Linked DNA regions of Homo sapiens. The protein of the gene in region 2 purifies or fractionates together with the protein of the main gene of each other region. This does not show direct contact. Each region holds a gene or a part of one and is shown on either strand. Other genes may lie near its edges.

What was found.
Region 1: the proteins of CTSK (region 2) and ARID4B purify together in Homo sapiens (affinity purification with mass spectrometry; 3 studies listed by BioGRID and IntAct, with this or other methods). This does not show direct contact.
Region 3: the proteins of CTSK (region 2) and ARK2N purify together in Homo sapiens (affinity purification with mass spectrometry; 3 studies listed by BioGRID and IntAct, with this or other methods). This does not show direct contact.

The regions. Positions count from the first base shown.
Region 1 is NC_000001.11:235,178,128-235,185,554, forward strand, and holds part of ARID4B (AT-rich interactive domain-containing protein 4B), read right to left. Parts: intron 4,667-7,427; coding exon 3,458-4,666; intron 3,058-3,457; coding exon of another isoform or gene 2,966-3,057; exon of another isoform or gene 2,944-2,965; intron 1-2,943. UniProt on the Homo sapiens protein: Acts as a transcriptional repressor. May function in the assembly and/or enzymatic activity of the Sin3A corepressor complex or in mediating interactions between the complex and other regulatory complexes.
Region 2 is NC_000001.11:150,795,469-150,798,448, forward strand, and holds the end of CTSK (cathepsin K preproprotein), read right to left. Parts: intron 1,431-2,980; coding exon 1,331-1,430; 3' UTR 740-1,330; downstream 1-739. UniProt on the Homo sapiens protein: Thiol protease involved in osteoclastic bone resorption and may participate partially in the disorder of bone remodeling. Displays potent endoprotease activity against fibrinogen at acid pH. May play an important role in extracellular matrix degradation.
Region 3 is NC_000018.10:46,211,998-46,219,424, reverse strand, and holds part of ARK2N (protein ARK2N), read right to left. Parts: intron 3,615-7,427; 5' UTR 3,545-3,614; coding exon 2,830-3,544; intron 1-2,829. UniProt on the Homo sapiens protein: AMPK substrate important for exercise capacity and skeletal muscle function.

The DNA.
Region 1 (7,427 bases), about 84 Mb from region 2:
CAAACAAAGTATGCACATCCTTCTTTAAAAAAATCAGATATAAACTGAAAATAGTCCTTAATATAGTACTGGGAGTTTATAAGCCTAGTAATTAAAAGTATATGCTGAAAATAAAAACTGAAATTTGTTAAGATTCAATAAAACCAAAATATTAAGACTTAATCACAGGTTAAAATGTTAATGACATTATGTCTTATAATCATATTAATATAATTTTTAAATGATATAAATGAGGTAAATTTTAGCAGTAATTCATACTTGGTTCTTTTTTACCAATTTATGTCAAGAATAACTAAGCTCCCAGGGCACTGTTTGGTTAACATGCATACCATTTACAAATCCAACATAGTAGTTCTAAAAAACGTCTCATCTTCTTGGTGGGAAATTATTGCAAAACATTACAAATAAATGTCTCCCTTTTCTTCAAGGACTAGCCCAAGTCCTACATCTTCACTAAGATGTTCCAGGCTTCACTGATCAATCACTACTCTGAACTGTAGCATTTTTCTATACTACTCATTTGGTCCTTAACATCTGCTATATTTCTGTCTAATTCATATATGTTATCTCTCAGACTATATAAAGTAAGATTTTTTCTCCAGAGACTAATAAAGTACTATCTCCATTCAGTTCCAATGTCAGACACCAAATCAACCTTCTGTGTATAAAACCTAACTTCCTTGATCAAAAACAGGACAAGTAATTAACTGTCTGCAACTTCCTAGCTTTTTTTTAATGGGTCATATAATCTTACTTACAACTTTTCCTAATACCTTTTTAAATTTTTAATATTTCTTTTTTATTTTTTACACCAAGTATGTGACCCACCTAATGTCATTTTAATATCACAATTTAAGTGAAACATAAAGGAGACGTAGATATTGACCATACTGAAGCACAGAACCATAATTGTCAGGTTTCTCTCCAAGAGAGTTTAATTCTAAAGTGTTCAGATACTAAGAAATAAAAACCTTCAATGTAGAGTAAATTAAGAGGAAAAAACTACATCTAAATAGTAAAACTTAAATTTTAACTTGTGATATAGTGGGGAGTCTCCAATATTCATAGTAAGTAAATTTATTAAAATGTGGCCATGTGAAACAGGTGCTTAAGAACCTATTTCTGGCTGGGCGCGGTGGCTCATGCCTGTAATTCCAGCACTTTGGGAGGCCAAGGTAGGTGGATTACCTGAGGTCAGGAGTTCGTAGACCAGCCTGGCCAACATGGCGAAACCCCATCTCTACTAAACAAAATACAAAAATTAGCCGGGCGTTAATCCCAGATACTCAGCAGGCTGAGGCAGGAGAATCTCTTGAACCTGAGAGGTGGAGGTTGCAGTGAACCAAGATTGCACCACTGCACTCCAGCCTGGGCAACAAGAGCAAAACTCTATGTCTCAAAAAAAAAAAAAAAAAAAAAAAAAAAACCCAACAAAAAGAAAAACACCAATTATTTCTAAAGAGATATAAATTACCCTAAATTTAGGAGTAGCTTTCAAATTCCACAATTATTAACCTAGTCAAGATTAAGATTCAAAAGGGCAGTGTTGACTTAGTCTATTAGCAGAGAAGATATCCTCTTTTTTTTTGTTGTTAATTTTAATCTTTTGTAAGATATTACGAACATAATAAGGATACAACCTCTTAAAAACTACAACAATAGGCTAGGCACGGTGGCTCATGCCTGTAATCCTAGCACTTTGGGAGGCCAAGGCAGGCAGATCATGAGGTCAAGAGATAGAGACCATCCTGGCTAACATGGCGAAATGCCATCTCTACTAAAAATACAAAAAATTAGCTGGGCATGGTGGCACACGCCTGTAGTCCCAGCTACTCAGCAGGCTGAGGCAGGGGAATCACTTGAACCCAGGAGACGGAGGTTGCAGTGAGCCCAGATCACACCACTGCACTCCAGCCTGGGCAACAGAGCGAGACTCCATCTCAAAAAAAAAACCCCCAAGAAAACCTATAACAATAAAACCTGTTTTTTTCTTTCTTTTCTTGTTTTTTCTTTTTTTTTTTTTTTTTTTTTTGAGACAGGGTCTTGTTTTATCACCCAGGCTGGAGTGCAGTGGCGTGATCTTGGCTCACTGCAGCCTTTCCGGGATCAAGTGATTCTCCCTCATCAGCCCCCAAGGTAGCTGGGACTACAGGCATGCGCCACCACAGCTGGCTGACGTTTGTATTTTTGGTAGAGATGGGGTTTTGCCATGTTGTCCAGGCTGGTCTTGAACTCCTGGACTCAAGCGATCCACCGCCTTGACCTCCCAGACCTCCCAAATTGCTGGGATTACAGGTGTGAGTGACCACACCTGGCCAGTAAAATCTTACTGTTGAAAGCCTAATATTCTGAAATAAAGGATTCTTTCATTTTGAAGATTAGTCATGCCTGGATAGTTCAGTTGCATGAGATAGTATGGCACAGATAAAATCATAGTAGTTATACTTGTAAATGTGAAAAAAAGCAAAGAACATTTCAATTTAATTGCAAGTATTTTTTTAATTTATTTTAAAACAGAAATGTTTTAAGTCAAGATTCCTGAGAAAACATAGAATTAACTAATTTGATCTAGACCATATCTCTTTAAGCTTTGCTGAAAACCTAAAGCTAGCATTCTAAAATCTTTTACGGTATATAAAAAACATACTCCAGTGCTCTGTCTTTACGATGGAAAAGTGTGTTCCAAAGCCAGGTGTCAGCCTAGAGTATACTGATTTAAAGATACCTGAATGAAGTGGTTTATAAGAAAAATGATGACAGAAGTATGGCTATGGCACCATCGAAAGGCACTAATACTTTGGGAAGGTACCGATTTGAATTTCCACTTTTAACAATTTCACGGAAAATCAAAAAAGTATTACTGTAGGTTATTAACGTACACATTGGTCCTTCAATTTGGAAGCTATGCATCTAAGAAAGCATCAAATTCCTTTACAAACTCACACAAGTTAGTCAGGCTTGAAAATCAGTTTGACACGGTTGTCTGAGGAAAGCAGTGCCTGGACAGTTGGTTGCTCCAAACCCCTACATACAGTATTTGGTTAAGGGTGGAGGGGTCTGTCAATAAATCAAAATGTTCGTGAGAAACTGCACATTACAATTGCAAAAACAATGTTACAGAAATAGATTTAAGCTGCTCATGCCATATAGTCAACCACTGCATATAATGAATTCTCAAACAGGTTTGGATTTGGGCCTGGGTGCAATTTCTAGCATGTGTTCTGGTCCACAATAAAATGCCATGGATGGCTCAAGCAAAGCACATTAAAGCCTTCTCAAGCTTTTAAATGCATTCCACTATTCATTTTCAAATTACCTTTAAAATTTCCATTTTTACCATGTTCACACAAATATGACACTTAATCGCCTCAGGTTATAACAAGAGATACTGTGAAATCATTGAAACTTTAAGAGGGGAAACCCTAAAATAAGTCAACATACACATTTTCCTTCTCACCTTTTTCAGGATGTTCTGGTTCTGGCTGATTACTACTGCTTGAGCTCACACTGGCATCAAAACCTGCTGGCGAGCTATTCCCTTCAGACTGGAGGTCTTGGAGCTCCCCAGCAACACTATCCACCTCAATTGTGCTATCAGTTTCACTCTTGATACTTCGAACCTCTTCTTGGTTTGGAGCCAGTGGTTCTGATACTGTTACAGAAGACTGCTGCCGGCTGCCTTCTGTTACAGTGACTGATGAAGGCGATTCAGGTGTAGTAGGAGGGGTATTTAGCACTGAATTACTGCCACTACTTGGAAATTCTGCTTTTCTGTCATTGACCTCTACTGTTTTTTCTTCAATGGGTTTACTATCGACATTGACTGGAGGTGGTTTTTCTAGTTCTACACTGGGTGAACAACTCTCCTCTTCAGCCACAGTCTGCAGTGACTCCTCTGCCACCCCCTCCTCTGGGGCAGGATGCGGTGGGGAAGCTGCAGCCTCAGTATCAGAGTCTGAAAAAAGCTCTTTCAGCGTTTTTTTAGGCCACTGTCCCTGAATACTTGACCAGACATCTTTTCGATCTTTGGCCCTGCTGTTTTGAAGTCTTTCATCAGAGTTATTTAAAAGTTTAATCCTTTTTTCTGCCACTTCTGAAAATCCTGAATAGAAACCAGTTGTCCGTAGAGATTTTCTTTTTTCCTCCAAACCATTGTATTTCTTAGTTGGTGTCATCTTTGCTTTTGTTTCTTCTTCATCTTCATCTGAAGAGCTGTTGCTACTGTTTTCCATGCAAAGTGATTCTTTGTTCTTGGCCTTCTCTTCCTTTTTGCCAGGTGATCCAGTTTTTAGACACTCTTCTGTATTGCAATACCTTCTTTTACCACGTTTTATTTGTGGTTTTGAAGATTTATCTGTTGTGTCCTTCTTGACATCCTTTCTCTTTTTTGTGACTTCATCTTCTTCATAATCAGTATCTTCGGATAATACTTCTATATCTTTCCTTAATCTTTCTGGAGATTTTGACACTGGTTTGGATATTACCAAATCTGCATGAACTTTGTTTTCTTCTAGCAAAGATGAACTGTTCTGTTCCTCCTTTGAAATAAGATCATTTCTGTTGTTGGTCAAATGATCAATCTTAGATTCCTCTTTGCCATTATTATCCATGTCTTGAGCACCTCTCTCATCTTCCTGCTCACTGTCTTCAGCAGAACTTTCAGAAGCTAGAAAATAACAGAAAAAAAAATGATGAGTATGATAAGAACACTAGCAATGTCTTCTATGTGCCAGGGACTGTATATATTAGGTCCTGTGTATACAGCCACCCGAGGTTGCTGGCTTTTATCTCTATGTAACATGCAAAGAAACTGGGTTTCAAAGAGGCTAAGAGGCTCTTCCAATGATGGAAATGTTCTATTACGATCACGGTGATGGTTGTAACACTGTATACTTTTGTCAAAACCCATCACATTTTAAACATAAAAGTCATCACTTTTATGTAAACTGTACCTTAATAAAGCTGAAATAAAAAAGAAAAAAGCTTCTCCAAGTTTATATAAGTATAATATTTTTATCATAATATATCTGAGAAAATAGTGGAGTCAGGATATAATCCCAGATTGTGCTACCTCCAAGTTAATATTCTTCTTTTTTTTTTTTTGAGTCTCACTTTGTCATCCAAGCTAAAAGTGTAAGTGGCGTGATGTCGGCTCACAGCAAGCTCTGCCTCCTGGGTTCACGCCATTCTCCTGCCTCAGCCTCCTGAGCAGCTGGGACTACAGGCGCCCACCACCACGCCCGGCTAATTTTTTGTATTTTTAGTAGACACGGGGTTTCACTGTGTTAGCCAGGATGGTCTTGATCTCCTGACCTCGTGACCCGCCCTCCTCGGCCTCCCAAAGTGCTGGGATTACAGGCGTGAGCCACCACGCCTGGCCCCAAGTTTATACTCTTATGAAACTATAGCCTTCATTTTTCTTTTCATCAGAGACGGTCTCACTCTCTCATCCAAGCTGGAGTGCAGTGGCACAATCACAGTGCACTTCAGCCTCAAACTCCTAGGCTCAAGAGATCCTCCCACCTCAGATTCCTGAGTAGCTGGGATCACAGGAGCAAGCTACTGCACCTGGCCTCTCATTTTTCTTTCCTTTGTTTTGTTTTGTTTTATTTTCTTTCCCTCCCTGCCTCCCTTCCTTTCTCTTTCCTTTCTCTTTCTTTATTTCTCTCTCTCTCTCTATTTTTTTCTGAGACAGGGTCTTACTCTGTTCCCCAGGCACTATCATGGCTCACTGCAGCCTCAACCTCCTGGGCTCAAATGATCCTCCCACCTCAGCCACCCAAGTAGCTGGGACTACAGGTGTGCCACATCCAGTGAATTTTTGTATTTTTTGTAGAGACAGGGTCTCGTCATGTTGCCAAGGCTGGTCTTGAACTCCTGAGCTCTAGCAACCTGCCTACCTCAGCCTTCCAAAGTGCTGAGATTAAAGGCATGAGCCACCACACCTGGCCAGCTTCATTTTTCAATGTAATAATGAATATCCAATAATTTTGTAATCAATGATTTCCATGATGTTTTAAAGAATAGATATAATTAATTTTAGTTACTGATAACTTATGTAAAATTAATTATGGAACTTACTGCTTCAGTGTGTTCATTCTGGTAAATCATTTTATTGTTATTTTAAGATAACATTTCCTGAGAACTTACTACATGCTGGTTACTTTTGATACACTTTGAACAGACCATCTCATTCAATCCTCAGAACAATGCTACGAGATACATGTTATCAGCCCCACTTTATAGTTCAAGAGACTAGGGTCTTAAATAAATAAGAAAAACAAACAAACAAAAAGCAACACAACAAAACAAAGCAAAAAAAAAGGGACTGGGGTTTAGAGGTTAATCTACCCCCCAAGGTAGTTAAATCTAAGTCATTTAACTCCAGAACTTACAACCTTAACTATAGCTCTCTACTGAGAAATCCATGCATGTTCTTTAGCTAAATTCATTAAATGTAAAACATAACTGACATAACTAAGATTGTGAAACCATTTCACCTTTACAATGTGTGTCTGCATGGCCACATTTTTTAAATTATCAAAACAATACATATACATCATTAAAAACAAATCTAGACTCATAATGAAAAACCAAAAAGAGGATAAAAATCTGTTTTTCCACCTCCAAAGTGTTAACATCTGATAGTTATAGTCATCTCTTACTATTCATAATATACTATTTGTTTTATTTATTTTTTTGTGTGTGTGACGGAATCTCACTCTGTCACCCAGGCTGGAGTACAGTGGTGTGATCTCAGTTCACTGCAACCTCCTCTTCCTGGATTCAAGCAATTCTCCTGCCTCGGCCTCCCAAGCAGCTGGGACTACAGGCACATGCCACCATGCCCAGCTAATTTTTGTATTTTTAGTAGAGATGAAGTTTCATCATTTTAGACAGGCTGATCTCGAACTCTTGACCCCAAGTGATCTGCTCATCTCAGCCTCCCAAAGCACTGGGATTATAGGCATGAGCCAACGTCCCTGGCCTGCTGACTTATTTATAAAGTTTATCCTCTATGAGCAATGGGGATTCTTACTTATCAACACCCATATCTCCCCTCTACCATCCTTTCTATATATAGTTATCTTTCATTTTTACAATATAGTATTTATAACATATGTAAATGTGGTTCCCTGCAGAAATAAGTAGTACATTTGATAAACTTCCTTTCTTATACAGCATTTTATTTTTCCAAGAGTTTCCAACTACTTTTCTGCATGTTACATCTTCCTTTGTATCTCTTTTACATTATTTTATTTCATTAAATTAAGCGTTGTATCCAATTTCCCCTTATTCATCCTATCTCTGCACCCTAGAGAGCTATTTTCTGCAGTAGCATCTGGGTGGTATCTCTCTGGGTCTGCTCTAACAGCTGTCATCCGGGGAATCCTCCTCACTGCTTTCTTTTGAGCTAGGTCCACTGT
Region 2 (2,980 bases):
TGAATCTTAGAGCCAGCTTGCCAATTTCTGCAAGAAAGCCAGCTGAGATTTTAATACAAATTGTGTTAATTCTGTAGATCAATTTGGAGATTATTGCCATATTAACAACAGTGTCATGCTGGGTGCAGTGGCCCACACCTATAATTCCAGCACTTTGGGAGGCCGAGGCGGCCAACATAGGGAGACAAGCTGGTCTCAAACTGCTGGGCTCAGGCGATCCTCTCACCTCGGCCTCCCACAAAATAATTTTTAAAAAATCAGCTAAGCATGGTGGTGTTCACCGTAGTCCAAGCTACTTAGGAGACTGAGGTGGGAAGAACTCTTGAGCCCAGGAGATCAAGGCTGCAGTGAGCTATGAGTGCCACTGACTCCAGCCTGGGCAACAGAGGGAGACCCTGACGAAAGAGAGAGAAAGACAGAGCGAGAGAGAGAGAAAAGAAAAAATAACCTTAAAATGTTTTTCAAGACCCAAGTTTCCATGTCACTTAATTTAGTCTCCCCTCAGGCAGATTAAACACTGAGATCTCCTTATATCCACTTAATCCCAGAAATGTAGTACAGTTCTTGGCACAGAGTAAGAACTCAATATATATTGGCTGAAGGAATGAACAAATAAATGAATTGGGATGAAATGTTTATGTGACAGTCTCTACAACCAGACTGTGAGCGCATCAAGTACATAGAAGATGTTCTATTCATCTTTTTTCCTCCAGCACCTAACACAGTATCCAACACAAAATGAATGTGTACTAGATGCTATTTATTAAACTGTAGACAGGAGATAAATACTTTATTTCAAAAGTGCAAAGAAGGGAAGACAAATCACATTTCTTTTTATCATGTAAACTTGTACCAAAGACTTATGAATAGATTTATGAATTGGAGTAGAAAACATAGACATTTCTACCTTGAGGATATAGAAGGGAACTTAGGAAGTGAGAAGTCAGATTACCCTAGTCCTCTAGGGTGCTTAAAGCTAACTAGTCCCGTGAATGAGAATCTAACCTATGTGAAAATCTCCAGCCTGTACCTGTACAGCATCAGCCCTGGGACAACACAGTCAGGGGCAGGCTGTAGTCACATCTCTTAGCCTAAGAGTACACAGCTGTCAGGGAAAGTCCTGATGGCCACAGTGAAAAAGGTCATGGGTGGAGAGAAGCAAAGTAGGAAGGATCATTTGAAGCACAAACAAATGGGGAAACTGAACAGACAATCTCAGTATCACCACATCTGCTTCAAAAATAGCACACCAACTCCCTTCCAAAGTGCATCGTTACACTGCACCATCGTGGAAGAAATGGAAGAGCAGGATGGATTTGGCTGGCTGGAGTCACATCTTGGGGAAGCTGGCCAGGTTGGCAATGCCACAGGCGTTGTTCTTATTTCGAGCCATGAGGATATATCCTTTGTTTCCCCAGTTTTCTCCCCAGCTGTAAGACCAATCAAGAAAAATACTTAGTACTCTCAGTTTATTTATTCATTAAAATATTTACTGAGTATTGTGCGAGGTACTGATGGTACACAAAAATGAATATGATGTTTTTTAACTTTAAAGAGTTTAAAGTCAAGAAATAGGGAGAAGGCATAATACTGTAGGTATCAAAGGAGGGAAAGATTCCTTCTGATCAAGAGAATCTTAGAGGCTTGATGTAAGAGGTGGCATTTGAGCTGAGCCAAAAGGCTAAGTAGAATTTCGACCTGTGGGAAGGGGATGCCAGTGGAAGGGTGTGAAATGAACAACAGAGGCAGGAAAGTGTGGGGCACTGTTAGGATCATGTAGCTGAAAAGCAGTGTGCCTAACAGGGTGTAGTGGGAGAGATGTCTGGAAAGGCAGATTGAGATCAGGTTGAATTACCTTTACTGCAAGGTTAAAAAGCTTCACCTTTACTCTGTGACCCATCATCGTGAGGAGCCAGTGAGGGATTTTGAGTGGGAGAGTGATATGATCAGAGCTGTATTTGGGGAATATTAATCTTGAAAATGTGAGTTTAGAGCATAAGAAAGAGGCTGAAGCTGGTGATCTTGATTTGGGAGTAAACCCCATAGGAGAGATGGATGAAACTATGAGAGTGGATGAGATTACTAAGGAAATGAGTAGCGAGACTAGAAGACAAGAGAGACGACGTGAGAAAGAGGAGAGAGGAGAGATTGTCTGTTTATCTTCCTGAATTGTTTTCAGTCCTCTTTCCCCAACCAGCAACTTCTCTAATTACCCAACACATTTTATTTAAAACCTGTACCCTCCCCCACTCTCCCCTTCTCCAGGGGCCCCCAGTGTTCCTGATCCTGCCCGGGTGTGTCCTTTCTTCCTCCCAGCTCTCTTGGAAGCTATCTCCACACATGGTACCTGATCATGAAAGAACAGGGTAAGTGCTTGGACCTGGGAGTCAAGAGAAGGGACAACACAGGACAGAAGCTGTGGGAGACTTGGGAAGATGCTCAGGTTCACCTTGAGTTGGAACTGTGATATAAAAAGTTGCTTCAGGTTTGAACAACACCACTGCGTGAGTCTGTCAGCGACCCAGAGTCTAGGGCTCCTGCTCCTTGGAGGGCACTAAGGACAGGAGATTTAGCCAGTGCTGCTGCCAGGTTAATGGTGATCAGCCAGGAAAGGAAAACTATAATTGTTATCAATCTGCCCCTCCCCAAAAGTCACAAGGTGCTAAAGAGAAATGGGAAGCAAGGTACCCTGGAGTTTTCTTTGTTCCCCAACATAGGAAAGTAAACACTAACTTTTTTTGTTTATATCTTATTTCTAAAAAATGTTTCTCTTCACAATCTTTGGCAAGTTCTTATATACGTGTATCTTAAGTGTATTTTGAAGGAAAAAAACTGTTCAAAGGAATATTAAACCTTTACGCTGTTCCCCTACTGTTAAAGACAGATTGCTAATGGAAACCATCTAAGAAACTGATCACATTAGAGACAAAAGAAAGTAAAAATACGTAATTCCAAAGCTCCTGCTGGTTCTTTGTACTGC
Region 3 (7,427 bases), on a different chromosome or scaffold from region 2:
ACTTTTACATGAATTCACTATAAAATATTATAAATTTACTATAAAATGCCCTTTACTCAACTCTAAGTCTGCCAAATGAAAGTACTGCCAGCATTATTTTGATATGATACCTCCAAACAGATTCTTAAAACATCAATATATTTCCAAAAACTTCAAAGAGAGATGATCTAGTGCCGATACTAAGCTGCCTGTCAGTTAACTGCTAACTTTAAAAAATCGTCATAAACATCTGTTGCCCAGATATCAAACTCAATTAAAGTATGATCATGCACTACACTGGTCTGCATTATTAATTATTTGCACTCTCTAAAAGAATATGCATTAACAGTTACAATTATTTGGCATAACATTTAGGATTAAGGTATTAGGATATCCTAACAGGAATTATTTAGGATAATGCCTTCAACTTTTAAGCTGAGCCCAAACAAAAGCTTATAAAGAGCATTTTCTGAATTACTAAATTGGTTGTACCTTAATGAAAGAGTATGGCAATAATCGGTTTTTACTTTTCCACTTGGTTTCCATTCTGTGTAAACAGCTGAATTAACATTCCGACATCCAAGAGATTCTGTTAGGCCCATCCAGCTTAAGTTCACCTGAATGTCCATGTTGTTGAACTCAAGTCAGTTCATAATTTATCCTACCTTTACAATTTAGGCAACTTTTCGACAACTGCTCTTACTATAAGGTTGAACGTGCCTCCTCTCTTCCCCAAAGTCATAAGGTGACTCAGTAAACTGAAAGATACATCACTGTTACATTAAAAATTCACAATGTCACAATTTTTCAAGAGACAACAATATGGACAATTGAAATGAAATTCCTAATATTTGAACTCTAAGTTGTTCCATTTTTGCTGCTTTGCATAATTCCAGTAAAGATCATTCATACCTGTCTTATGGGAATGGCAGGTATACCATAAGACCTCCCAAAACTGCCAGCACACACACAGGCAGTCACATACAGTGACCCTGTACCTCAATCTACCATTTGATTCTCCAGGATTACCTTAGAAAACTATGTGTATTTTCAAAAGCCACAAAGTTACTAAATGGTGTGAACAATAGAAACCAAACTATAGATTCAAATTAATTTACTTTGGTGTTCAGTTAGTACACAATTCAGAAGAGACAAGAAACAGACACTGGTGTTTTAAGTTTTAAGCAGTGGTCAAGATACTCAATTAGAAAGAAGATTAGGAAAATATGAACAAAGCACATCTAACCTATTTAAGCAAAACAGGGAAAGTGCCTATGAAGACATTTCTCAAGCCACCTTACAATAGGGTTCTGACTTTAAATTTTGTTTACCCACCTTCTTCCTTTCCACAAAAAGGCAAAGTATTGGGGTAGTTACATAAAATCCTGCTTAGTAAGTGGAAGTAAGTATTGTATTAAGAGTTCCATCAAGGTCTTGATTAAGAGGTTAGAAGAGGATATAGGAATGCACAATTTTACAGGTATTAATAAGGTTTTTTTAAAAATATTAATACATGTAAAACTAAAATATATACCTAAAACCTGCCTTAGAACAACCCCAAAGTCTGTTTCTCTCATACATTTAACTGATGAGCTTCATTGAAATCCCCCTCCCGGTAGTTTTATTACAAGGAACAATAGCAAAGGAATCCAATAGAGATATTAAAACAGTAAAAAGCATTTCTAAAGATCGTTTGAGACTCATATTTATATTATATGGACAAGACTTATTATCAGAACTTGAACACCTATAAAGTGCTTTAAAACCAATCATTCTTGTTACTGAATTTATATAAGTTTGGGAAGCTATAGATTCCATTAACCAATATGATTTCTCTTGAAATGTTCTTTGTATATCAGCAATATGCTGTCTTCACATGTAGAAACAGAAAGCTTTCAGAAAACAGGGAGAGAAAAAACATAGTCACCCATAAAACTTTAGAAAACCCAAACTTGCCCCTCTTCAATGTGGCAATAAACAATACTGCCATGACCTATTCAATGCCATACAGTTTACAAAATGTTCCTGATCATATTGTAAGGATCTCTTGGATAATAAGAATTCACTACTTAAGAACCATTCAGATACATCTTTCTTCCACTATGAAATCTCAAGACTGCCTTTGTATTATAGTACACAGTACCAGATGCAATAAGAATGGGGAAAGCAGATTTACCAAATATGTAATAAGTTACAGACCCTTATACCAATGAGAGCTAGAACAAGCGGATTTCTAACAAACTTTTTTAAAACTTGGGGAACTAATGGGAAATTTTTCAGAAAGACATTCTTTTCAACGTGAGGATAGAAAGATTTGTAACAAGGATAACTAGCTTCTCATGCATTGAATATGGGGGAAACACATAAAACTACTGTTTTTGGAGGAAAAATTATTAGAAAACTTTAACAAAAGATAGAATGTGTTATTTCAGACACTATAAGCTCAAGTGCAGTGGCTATATAATAAAGCAAGGTGCCTATTCCTGAGGAGAATGTACTCAGTAATGATGCCGAACAGTGAGTATTAAATCTAAGCAGTGCCAAAAAGGCAATGATTGGGAGTTCAGGTAATGTGTTACAGACAGACTTATGAGAAATTCCATTACTTAAAAATAATCTTGTCCCTATCATTAACCCTTTAATTTTGTTTTTCCTGATGTGCTAAAGTTCACTGGAAACCTCAGAACAGGTTTTATAAATTGGCCATGTCTTGTTAATAGACTGCAGTCTTCAAATTTACACAGAGCTGCAGGTCTCCTGGATTTTTTCAAGTGTCACTCATCTAACTGAACCTGATAGCTGAGAAATGCCATCAGGTACTTTACAGTCAGTTTAAAAAACATCCTCTACCTGGTATCTCTGCAGTGATTGTCTTGCTGCTCCCTGAAACCTCTTCATCATCATCTGATGAGCTCGTGCTTGAGTCACAAGTCAGGTCACTATCACTGGTACTACTGTCCTGCAGCAGGTTATATTTCTTCCTTGCAGCAGCCTCCCGTTTCTGCCTCAGTAGCCTGATCCTCTCCTTGTGCTTTTGGCTCCGATGACCTTTAACCTTGGCGACTCGGCCATTCTGTTTATCACTGGATTGCCGGTTTTTCTTGGCAGCCATAGTGGAAGTTTCACTTTCAGATCGGGACCGCCTAGACTTGCGCCCAACTGTGGCACCAGACACTCCTGAAGGGTCTCCTTCTACCGCCGTTTCTGCCTGAGAGGGTTCATTCTCTTCTGCGGAAGACAACGTATCTGAATCAGCCAGGTGACCACTAGAGGAAGGGGAAAGCATGCAGTGATTAGAGGAGTCACTCTCATAAACTCGGCCAGTTGTAGGCTTGTCACTCTCTGTGGATGCTAACTGAGACTCAGAAGAGTCCCTTCTCAGTTCCATCAACAAGCAGGGCATTGAAGAAATAACTGTAGAATCCGCTACACCATCTTTCTGAACTTGAGATTCCAGTTCTACAGATCCATCTTCCTCCTTGGCTGTCTCTTGTTCAGATGCTTTTGGTGGGGCTTCGGACTCAATGAGTTCTTCAACTTTTCCCACTGCCTCCTCCATCTTCATTTCAGAATTTCAAGTTAAATCATGGAGTAGAGTCTAGGAAATGATATCAAAGATGCAACAGGAAAGCAACCTGTACAAAAACACACAAAGTCAATAAACAGAATGCCAGATTATTTAGTCAACACAACATGCCTACCTTTCTAAGTGGGTGGGGCAAAACTTACTATTACACAGGCCTTTAAAATATATATATATTATTATCTGCTTGTTTGATCAACAGTCAAATTCAAAGGACTTAATACGGTCAAAATCTAAGCATACTGAGCTACTAAAAATGCCATAATATTAATCCTCTAACTTGAAAGGCCAACATGTAATGAACATTTTCAAGTTTACAATTTTATTTAAAGTGTTCTACAAAGAAATCTTCAAAACTCTGATATAATTAATATGCATTCATTGACTTTGATATAAATGAAAAAGAATGCTTTAAAACTAGTCTAGAAATGCATTACCTGGAATGACTACTTTTACATTCAAATCCAAAAAGAAAGGAGGTGGGAGGAGGGGAGTTACAATAGAGAAACATCAAATGTTTTTGTTTGTTTGTTTGTTTGTTTTTGAGACAGGGTCTTACTCTGCCACCCAGGCTGGAGTGCAATGGTGCAATCTCAGTTCACTGCAACCTCCGTTGCCCTGGCTCAAGCAATTCTCTTGCCTCAGCCTTCCAAATGGCTGGGACTACAGGCGCACACCACCACACCCGGCTAATTTTTGTATTTTTTGTAGAGACAGGATTTCACCATGTTGCCCAGGCTGGTCTCGAACTCCTGAGCTCAAGTGATCCACCCACTGTGGCCTCCCAAACTGCTGGGATTACAGGAGTAAGCCACCGTGCCTGGCCCCTACATTTATGTTTAAAAAAACAAAAACACAAACACACTCCAACTACATGCATTTGGCAAATGAGCAACCAAATACTATGCATCCAACTTGTCTGCAGTCCCCTCAATAGGAGTTGCTCTAGTGAAGCATTAAGATGAAAAGCCAGAATTTGATGCTTCCTCAATCCTACCTAGCTCCCACATACCTCATCATGCTGAATTTGAGTCTAGTGTTTAAATAGATGTTTTATCCACAATGGTCACTAAATACAGAACCCAGAAAGCCTAGTATATTCTATGAATGAATAAAGGGATTTAAGAGAAAATACTCTACACCCATTGTACACTTTGTATGCTAAATTTAGAACCTAACACTCTACCACCACTGTGAGTGATACAACTCCAATTAACCATACAGGTACAGGACATAATATTTAACCTCAAAAGCTTATGACCTATATACAGTTAAGTCCTTACTTAACATTGTCAACAGGTTCTTGGAAACTGAGACTTTAAGTGAAATGACATTTAACAAAACCAATTTTTCTCATTAACCTTATAACTAAAGGACATCATTCAAAGACCAGCAGTATCTTGTTCCATTTAAAGTCGCAGTTTCCAAGAACCTATTGAAAATCTGGTGGTTTTTAAAGAGGATGCTAAATATGGAAAACAAGTAAATACCTTGCCCTGTATGTGTTACATTACAGAAAGCAACTATCATGTCCATAGGTCACAGACACACATAACCATTATTCTATACGGTATGCTAGGTGCAATATGGCATCTCCATCATCTCACTCCATCAAGTTACCTAGATAGTTCAATCTATAGCAGACAAAAACTAGGAAATATTTGCAAAATCCTTTAAAACAGATCTAACATGCCAAGCCCACTTTTTGCTTAATACAAACATAAATATTCTATATGCCTGTTGTTTTTCATAGCCCTGTTCTCAGCTGTTGATAAAACAGGCATTCTGATTAAGTTTCCTTAACACATTCATGGAAACCAGAACATTCATGGCCACTGAAACATCTGTTAATTTAAAACAATCCTAGGCCAGGAGTGGTGGCTCACACCTGTTATCCCAGCACTTTAGGAGGTGGAGGCAAGTGGATCACCTGAGGTTGGAAGTTCGAGACCAGTCTGGCCAACATGGTGAAACCCCGTCTCTACTAAAAATACAAAAATTGGCCAGGCATGGTGGCGAGCGCCTGTAGTCCCAGCTACTCGGGAGGCTGAGGCAAAAGAACTGCTTGAACCTGGGAGGCGGAGGTTGCAGTGAGCCAAGATCACGCCACTGCGTTCCAGCCTGGGTGACAGAGCAAGACTCCATCTCAAAAAAATAAATAAAATAAATAAAAAATAAATAAAACAATCTTGTGTGTAGCCTACTTCACAAGCATATTTGTATCAATTATAATACTAATGTTGGAGGCTAAGTGAAAATCAGCATAAATATTTTTTCTGACACCATTACAAAAAAATGTAACACCTCTGAAAGCCAACAGAGGGAGTAACAGTTAAACCAACGGAGACCGTTATAAATAAAGCATGCTGTCAATACAAACACGAAATAAAATATTCACAGATACAAAATACCCCCAGGTATGAGGAATAAACCCAAGTTCTTTTTTTTAAGCCAGTCAAATTTAGCAGTGGGGGGGACAAAGATTTTCTAACTGAATAAAAATGAGAGTTAATTCTATTATGGAGATTCAAATTGTATATTCTGGAATAATGATTCTTCTTAAGGCTGGGCACGGTGGCTCACGTTTGTATTCCCAGCACTTTGGGAGGCCGAGGCAGGTGGATCACGAGATCAGGAGTTCAAGACCAGCCTGGCCGAGATGGTCAAAGCCCATCTCTACTAAAAATACAAAAATTAGCCAGGCGTGGTGGCAGGCACCTGTAATCTCAGCTACTTAGGAGGCTGAAGCAGGAGAATCACTTGAACCCGGGAGGTGGAGCTTGCAGTGAGCCGAGGTCCCGCCACTGCACTCCAGCCTGGGCGACAGAGTGAGACTTAGTCTCCAAAAAAAAAAAAAAAAAAAAAAAAAAAATTCTTCTTAAAGCTAAAATATCTGAGAAAATATACTCAGATGGAATTAATGTCAGCTATATAGGACAAGCATCAAAAGTCTCAATTTGTGAAAGAAGGCAGCACTGGATATTTTCAAAGTACATAATACAGCATCAGACTAAAAAGTAAATTTGTTAAAATGACCATACAACGCTTGTTTCTTCAAGAAATAAGTTGTGTGGATAAAACAGGTAAATCTAGATTGTTTTTCCCTGTTAAAAAAAAATGACAATATGGCACATCATTCAATTTAATGATTATCTTTCAAGTTCCTTAAATTTGAGTGTTAACTGAGATTTAATTTATACTACCTAAATTAGTAACCGGTATTGCAGTCAAAACCACTTAAATATGCTCAAATCAATCACAAAAGACTAGTATTGACCACAAACAGGACAAAAGTTAGCTCATCATGGTATGTTCATACAATGTGGCCATTAAAAAAATGAGAAAGCACTTTATATAGAGAGGTAAGAAACAGTTCTCACGCAATTTTAATGAAAAAAGATACATTATAGCATTTATGTAAATAAATAACAAAACTATATTTACATGAGTTTATCTGTAGATGCATAGACTCTGGAAAGATACTTAAGAAAATAGTAATACCAGTTGAGAAGGAAAGCAGGTGAATAAGGGAACAGGAGAAGACAGTGTGGTATGCAGTTTTGTATCTCTTGAATTTGTGATGTATACAAACATTATCTATTCAAAAATCCACTCTGACATAAAAGTCTTCTGAAGAAAAAGAAGTTGTGCTTTTCTGGGGCCATAACACTAGACTACTCTTTGGGTCAAGCTTAGTCAATAAATTCTACTATGCTTTCTTCCTATAGTGGAATTTTGCTATAATTAATTAAATACAGGAGAAAAAAGTCACAGAAAGTGAAAATATAAGCTCTGACTAAACTCCCTTCAGTGGAATAAAAACGAAGTGCCCTAACCACAGGGGGAAATGATGTCATACATAAAG